Linked DNA regions of Homo sapiens. The protein of the gene in region 2 purifies or fractionates together with the protein of the main gene of each other region. This does not show direct contact. Each region holds a gene or a part of one and is shown on either strand. Other genes may lie near its edges. The genes, in order: LIPM and CNOT8.

Region 1 (4,515 bases), on a different chromosome or scaffold from region 2:
TCCAACCTGGGGCAAATACTTATTTAAAAAAATGGAACATAATGCAGCAAGGTGAAATGATGTTGTAGAAGGGTATTTAAAACGTTGGGAAATTCTTCATGATATACATTGTTTAGCAGAAAAAACGTTGGAAAATAGTAAATTGTGCATGACATTTCTTCTTAAGAAAACAAAACCTCACAGATTTAGAATGAAGATAAAGGCATGACAAAGCAGTTCTTGGTGCAGAGTACATTGGTGACTATTGCCTTCTTTTGTATTTTTTAAATTTTCTATAATGAGCATATATTGCTTTTGTAATAGTATAAAAAAGTCAATGTTTAAAAGACCATCCAGATATAAGCTGCTTTCAGCTCCTTGAATCTGGCATGTTCTTAGCTGCTCCAGCTGTCCTATGTGCTGACCTTTTTGCTACCACCCTCTCAAGCAACTGCCATTTATCTTTCAGATTTCAGGCTTTGAAACCCTTCTTCAGCAAAGCTTTCTGGATTAGTTCCCCCTATTTTATGTTTTCTTCTTTTATTTCATTGCTTTTATAATGACTAATTGATGATCTGTCCTTCCTGCTGGACTATAAGCTCCATAAAGTCAGGGCTTTTAATATTCTTAGATCTGTCTAACCTTAGTACATAACACAATATCATGGACCTAGTAGGTGCTCAGTAAACACTTGCTTAAAAAATACATGCATAAGGCCAGTTATTCATCAAAGTATAAGATAGACCATAATCCATATGCATGAATATACAGAGTCAAATCAATGCAGGACAGACAAGCTCCAAAATTGGGGCTTACCCTGGGAAGGTTCTTGGCTTTGCCCAGGAAAGAATTCAAGGGTGAGCCGGTAATACTAGACAGTAATCTTTTACTGAATGGTACTGCTCCTTGAAAAGCAGAGCTAATTCATAGGCAGTGCTCCCAGAGTCAGCAGTGTATGGGCTATTGGCAGCTGTATTTATGCCTACTTATAACTATTAATTTCATGCAAATTAAGGGGCAGGTTATTCAGAAATCTCCAGAAACGGGACAGTAACTTCTGGGCCATTGCCATGGAAAGGGGTACTAACTCGTGGGTCATTGCTATGACATTTGTAAACTGTCATGGTTCTGGTAGGAGTGTCTTATGCTAATGAGCAGCCGGGGCAACTAAAGGATGCCTTCCAGGCCACTGCTGGTTCTTGCTGTTTTTTTTTCACCACCTGCTGGTTTGTGCTTGTTTATTCACTGTATCCTGTTGGGACCAGAAAGTAAGTCCTGCCCTTCTCCTACCTCAGAACCAGTTCAAACTTGCAACTACTTTTATTCTATTTTGTTGAATTTACACCAATCGTACGAATTTTCTATTTTACTTTGTTTTTTTCCAGGCATAGCTGCTTAAAGGCAGAGCCCAATTCAATGGGCTTTAGTCTACAGACTCCTGAAGCCCCAGTAGTGTATAGGTGCTGGGTACACGCAGTGGGTGGGGCCCAGGAAGATCATCTCTGTCTGCCACTGCAGAGATTCCCCTCACCTCCAAACCAGAGGAATTCAAGTGGGACAGTCTCAGGGCCAGAAGGATGACTCCTGAGGACTGACACCAATGTGCTAACTACCTAGACAAACCACCTAATCATTGAATAGTCAAAAGAAACCTGATATTCAGCACCATGCAGATACAGAATATTTCTATTTCCTCTCAGTTTTTGAACCCATATAAGGAAGCTTCTGTAGAAAGGGTCTTAAATCGGTATAAATACATGTTAAAGTTCCATTTTCTGAGAGTTTGTTAGATAAATCTCTGGAACATGAACATTGCACATGATCGTCTTACTCATCTGGAGGTAGCCTCTCCTCTTTCTCACCTGGGAGGGTTTATTGCGTAGTATTTATAATTATAGACTTTGTGTTTAGGCAGTCCTGAATTTAAATAGTAGCTATGCTATTACATTGGTATGGCCTTGTTCAACTTGTTTAACCTCTTTAATCTCAGTATCTAGATTTGAAATATGTGAATGATCCTATCTACTGCACAGGGCAATGAAATTGAAATAGAATAGTATCTCTGCTTGTGTCATAATCCCTGCTATGGGATAAGTGTTACCATAGGGTGACCATTACTAAAACCCAGCTTAGAATTTGAAAAGCTACCAAAAAAAAAAAAAAAAAAAACCTCCTGGGAAAACTAAAGAGATGTACTGTCATTTATGCATTTTACTTGTAGGAGGTTCTGTGTAGCACTAACTCGGGGTCCTTTTATTGCTATTCAGCAAAGTACCAGTCCAGAAACAGGATAAAAAGAGTAGATTAGAATGGTATAAGATGCTACTAGAAGTGTGTGCCCTGATAGCAAGAAGCAAAGGCTGACACCTTTGCAATATGGAAAAAAAGAATAAAAGAATAAAAGGTACAGACAAAATGGAAATAATCAAGGGACTGGGGTGAACTTAAAAGGCCTTAATTACTTCTCCACTCATAGGATGAACCAAAGTGTTCAAGGAAAAGTTAAATTGTGTTTGAAGCTCAAAGAGATTAAGTCATTTGCCCAAGTTTACTAAATTTGTGTGAGGAGACCCCAGGTCTACTGACATCCAGTTTAGCATTCTTTCCAGTACAATTTGCTACTTCATCACTATGCTCTTCTAGTATGAATCACCACCATGTATAAATATAATACATAATGTAAATAATACACAGATACAAACGTTAACATGTTAAGTACCTCATTTCCCAGAAATCCCAACTTACAATATTCATGAATGCTTCTGGGTCCACAGCTTTAGTTGGCATATGTACTGAATTCACATTTCTCTGGAACATATACGCCACCAGAATCAGAAGCCACATTTCCATTCTGTGTGAGACAATCCACTGTCTTGACAAGGTTTCCAACATGGTCCAACATCTGCATTTATTTTTTCCTGCCAATGTAACAACTAATTCTAAAGTAAGAAGAATTTGTGGGTTTAAAAACTCTTCACATATTTTCCTGCTGCAATTCCCTCTTCCAATTCTGAAGCAAATTAGGCAAGCTTAGTTGGTAGGGAAAGAACACAAAGTAGGCTGGAAACATTGCCTAGGATGTCCCAATACTATCTGACTCCTCCCATTCCTCCCTCACACAACTTGTAATCCCTAATCCTTCAACTTCCAGGTGTGTAGAACTTTCTTTGATGTGACCTGGAATTTTGTGCATTTGATACAGCCTATTAAAACCCCTGTACTTTATCACCAGGTAATAAGGAGTGTAGGGAACCTCTTTCCTTCCACTCCTAGATTTTATCTTTCTTTGATAGATAGCAAAAGATGGAGTCTACAGAAAGCACTGAAAGTTTCTATAGTCATATTCTGGGTCTTCAATGATCACTGTTTTTTGGTTAAAGATAAGTGTTGTGATAAGTGCTTTTATTTAAAATATCTAAAATTTTATGGACATTTTCTACTTTTAGGGATGGGTGAGAACATTGATTAGAAGAAAATGAATCTTCCATGTTTAGCCCATTTCGTCTAGTTCAATTAAATAGATATACACAAAATTTTTATTTTAAGTTGTAATCACTAGTTAATCACTGGGATATGACTAGATGGATTATCTAGTAAATAAATCATCAGCTATTGTGTATTTTAGTTTTTTATATATATTTATTATATTTTAAGTTCTAGGGTACATGTGCACAACGTGCAGGTTTGTTATGTAAGTATATAAGTGCCATGTTGGTGTGCTGCACCCATTAACTTGTCATTTACATTAGGTATATCTCCTAATGCTATCCCTCCCCACTTCCCCCACCCCACGACAGACCCCGGTGTGTGATATTCCCCTTCCTGTGTCCAAGTGTTCTCATTGTTCAATTCCCACCTATGAGTGAGAACATGCAGTGTTTGGCTTTTTGTCCTTGTGATAGTCTGCTGAGAATGATGGTTTCCAGCTTCATCCATGTCCCTACAAAGGACATGAATGCTTCCTTTTTTATGGCTGCATAGTATTCCATGGTGTATAGGTGCCACATTTTCTTAATCCAGTCTATCATTGTTGGACACTTGAGTTGGTTCCAAGTCTTTGCTATTGTGAACAGTGCTGCAATAAACATACATGTGCATGTGTCTTTATAGCAGCACGATTTATATTCCTTTGGGTATATACCCAGTAATGGGATGGCTGGGTCAAATGGTATTTCTAGTTCTAGATCCCTGAGGAATCGCCACACTGTCTTCCACAATGGTTGAACTAGTTTACAGTCCCACCAACAGTGTAAGTGTTCCTATTTCTCCACATCCTCTCCAGCACCTGTTGTTTCCTGACTTTTTAATGATCCCCATTCTAACTGGTGTGAGATGATATCTCATTGTGGTTTTGATTTGCATTTCTCTGATGGCCAGTGATGATGAGCATTTTTTCATGTGTCTGTTGGCTGCATAAGTGTCTTCTTTTGAGAAGTGTCTGTTCATATCCTTCGCCCACTTTTTGATGGGGTTGTTTAAGGGATAATATCCAGAATCTACAAAGCTATTGTTTAAAATAATGGGTTGCAGCCTAGT
Region 2 (3,821 bases):
CAGGTAAGAGTTATATACATTTTACTACTTTGTTTCAGACTTGTCCTGATATTTAAAAAGGTGTCAAATGAGCCATGGATGCTGGTGGCAGGAGGCAACCAGAGAGGAGAGGCTCGAGTATGAGGAATGGGGAAGACTTATTTACAAATTCAGAGCAAACTCCTCTCTTCTGGGTCTAAAATAAAAACATCTTTTGTCTTCAGTAAAACAAAAGTCTTTCTGCTCAATGCAGATGGTAGGTACAGTGTGCTCAAAAGAAGCATTTTCTCTTGGGGAAGATAAGTACACAGTCAGCACAGTAAGCACCACTCTGGGATCAGGCCCACCCTGCAGAGCCTGGCGCCATCACTGCTGCATGTTGTTGATAATCGCCAGGATGCTCATCTTCTCCTGGGCAGAGTCCACATCCTCATTCTGCTTCTGGGCCACTCCTGTGCCTAAGCCATAGAGCCGCCCACAGTACTTGGCATCATCAATGCTGTCCTCAAAAAACAACTGCAGAATGGGACAGAGAACCATGGTGAGAGTTATGCTAGAAGTCATGACAAGTATAAATATTATCACATCTGGCCGGGTGCAATGGCTCACGTCTGGAATCCAAGCACTTTGTGAGGCTGAGGCGGGCAGATCACTTGGGGTCAGGAGGTCGAGACCAGCCTGGCCAACATGGCAAAACCCCATCTCTACTAAAAGTACAAAAATGAGCCGGGCATGGTGGCACATACCTGTAATCCCAGCTACTTGGGAGGCTGAGGCGGAAGAATCACTTGCGCCCAGGAGGCAGAGGGTGCAGTGGGCCAAGGCCGTACCACTGCACTCCAGCCTGGGCAACATAGCGAAGACTCCATCTCAAAAAAGAAAAAAACCACTACCACATCACCACCTCCCAGCCTTCCTAAAGCCCTGAAAATATACCAAACTAGAAAAAAAAACTAATAGTATAGAAAGGCTCGGCCAGGCACAGTGGCTCACGCCTGTAATCCCAGCACTTTGGGGCGCCAAGGCAGGTGGATTACGAGGTCAGGAGTTCAAGACCAGCCTGGCCAAGATGGTGAAACCCTGTCTCTACTAAAAATACAAAAAATTAGCCAGGCGTGGTGGCAGGCACCTGTAATCCCAGCTACTTGGGAGGCTGAGGCAGAGAATTGTTTGAACCCGAGAGGCAGAGGTTGCAGTGAACTGAGATCACACCACTGCACCCCAGCCTGGGTGACAATGCAAGACTCCGTCTCGAAAGAAAAAGAAAAAGAGACAGGGTTTCACTCACTGCAACCTCCGCCTCCCAGGCTCAAGTGATTCCCTTGCCTCAGCCTCCCGAGTAGCTGGGATTACAGGTGCATGTCATCACACCTGACTAATTTTTGTACTTTTAATAGAGGCAGGTTTCACCATGTTGGCCAGGCTGGTCTCGAACTCCTGACCTCAAGTGATCCACTTGCCTCGGCCTCCCAAAGTGCTGGGATTACAGGTGTGAGCCACCGCACCCGGCCTAAACCTTTCCTTTTAATGCAGTCTTTTCATGCTCCTTTCTCTATAGGAGAAAGGCTCTCCTATCTGAACATACTTTCCATGTATTCTTTTACTGCCAGTATCTCTGTGCTGCTGCTGTTTAACACAACTGCTCCCTTCTCTTTAACAGGCAGAGCAATGGGCTGGGCTTGGGCTGTGGATTCAGCCGGACTCACTTGACCTTGGCAAAGTCATTTAAACTCCTTTTAAGCCATAGTTCCCTATCTATAAAACAGGATAATAGGGTTATTATGAGGAATGAGATAACGAACAGTAAGCACTTAACGCAAGATCTCTCCACTGTGGCACTACTGGGGTAGGATAATTATTTGGGGGAACTTGTCCAGTGTATCACAGGATGTTTAGCAGCATCCTGACAGGTAGCACACCACTCTCCCCCACCAGATTGTGACAACCAAAATCATCTACAGATATTAACAAATGTACCCTCCAGGGCAAAATCATCCCCAGTTGAGAATCACTGACCTAGAACATTTACCAACACATGGTAACAGTTGTTTATAATTAAGAGTAACAAAGAGGAAATGTACTCTCCCTCTCTACAATCTTAGTTCTAAAAAGGAGATCCATGTCTACAGATCAATTAATCTGATCCGGTCCTCAAAAGTGTCAACAAAATCAATATTTCAATTTTTCAAAGCAGCGTCTTACTCCTTCTACATCTTTGAATATATTTTAAAACCTGAGTCAGTGAGTAAAGAAACTAAAAGAAGAAATTAAGAGTCTAATTTTTACTAAGGGGTTATAGTAAATTCAATATAGTATTTATTTAATAATAATTAACAGAACTTACCATAATGTCAGTAGGTGGCCTAACAAATATATTTCTATTACAGGAATCAGAAAAAAAGCAAATAACTGAAAGGATTAGAGCTGACAAGAACATGAAGTTCTGGACTTGGGTGTGCTCAAGAATACTTGGTTACTGGAAAGTGGCTTTCACGTCAGAATGCTGCTTTTGCCTCTCAAACATGTGACATGCAGAATACCATAACAAAAAACAACCACTTTCAAAGTGGACATCAACTTGCTAAAAAAACAGTCTATGTGGCTGGGCGTGGTGGCTCACGCCTGTAATCCCAGCACTTTGGGAGACCAAGCCAGGCGGATCACCTGAGGTCAGGAGTTCGAGACCAGCCTGGCCAGCATAGTGAAACCCCGTGTCTACTAAAAATACAAAAAATTCGGCCAGGCAGAGTGGCTCATGCCTGTAATCCCAGCACTTTGGGAGACCAAGGCAGGCAGATCACCTGAGGTCAAGAGTTTGAAACCAGCCTGGCCAACATGGCGAAACCCTGTCTCTACTAAAAATACAAAAATTAGTAGGGCATGGTGGCGGGCACCTATAATCCCAGCTACTCAGGAGGCTGAGGCAGAAGAAAAGCTTGAACCCGGGAGGCGGAGGTTGCAGTGAGCTGAGATCGCACCACTGCACTCCAGCCTGGGTGACAGAGCAAGGCTTCATCTCAAAAAAAATAAATAATAAATAAATAAAAAATAAATGTTCAACAAACCTCAGCCCACATAACAGACCATCCACTACCTCCTTAGCCTTCAGCAAGTTACTGCCGAGAGGCCTGTGATCACATTCAAGGAAGCTTACCTCTTTCATCCTAAAGAAAGCCATTCCTGTCAGCAGTGAGTCTGAGCCTGCCTGGTGCTGCCTTCCAATCCTCTGCAAATCCAACTGATCAGCAACTTCCTGAAGACCTCCCTGGAGATGTATGGAGAACAAAGATAATATTACAAACCCAACATGCCCCTACTGGAGCCAACTAAGTGCAGTTATGAGTTCACTGAATTCTAGCAAGAAGTGGGGACAGGCCATTTATTTAACAGGCCTTAGTAACCTCTTTTTAGCTCTTTTATTCCCTTTTTCCAGACGCTATATTGTGCTACATCCTACATTTTGCTCCTTTCCATGTTGTTAATTTTTCCAGAACTCTGCCATTAAAATCAGAATTGCAAGGCTGAGGAAATAGTAAATCCCACTCTAATTCTAGACAGCAAAGCTCTATGTCAACAATTTATTACGGTACCAAGTTCTAAAACTTTCTAGAGTTAAGAACTCCTCTAAGAATCTGTTATACCACAGACCCCATCCCTAACAAACAGCATTTATACCTTTTCATTAGGTTCATGGCCCTCGAGTGAAGAATGCCTGCCTTAAGATGACAGAAGCAGAGGGTTCCCTTCATGGCCAGGTTAAAGATCGTTACCACACAAATATCTGACCAAATCAGCTTTATATTATACCCTGTCTACCACCACACTAGCATCTAGTACTCAAA

Evidence for each region.
Region 1: the proteins of CNOT8 (region 2) and LIPM purify together in Homo sapiens (co-immunoprecipitation; one large-scale study listed by IntAct). This does not show direct contact.

What each region holds. Positions count from the first base shown.
Region 1 is NC_000010.11:88,801,253-88,805,767, reverse strand, and holds the start of LIPM (lipase member M precursor), read right to left. Parts: upstream 3,039-4,515; 5' UTR 2,872-3,038; coding exon 2,725-2,871; intron 1-2,724. UniProt on the Homo sapiens protein: Plays a highly specific role in the last step of keratinocyte differentiation. May have an essential function in lipid metabolism of the most differentiated epidermal layers.
Region 2 is NC_000005.10:154,871,964-154,875,784, reverse strand, and holds part of CNOT8 (CCR4-NOT transcription complex subunit 8), read right to left. Parts: intron 3,245-3,821; coding exon 3,134-3,244; intron 496-3,133; coding exon 346-495; 3' UTR 1-345. UniProt on the Homo sapiens protein: Has 3'-5' poly(A) exoribonuclease activity for synthetic poly(A) RNA substrate. Its function seems to be partially redundant with that of CNOT7.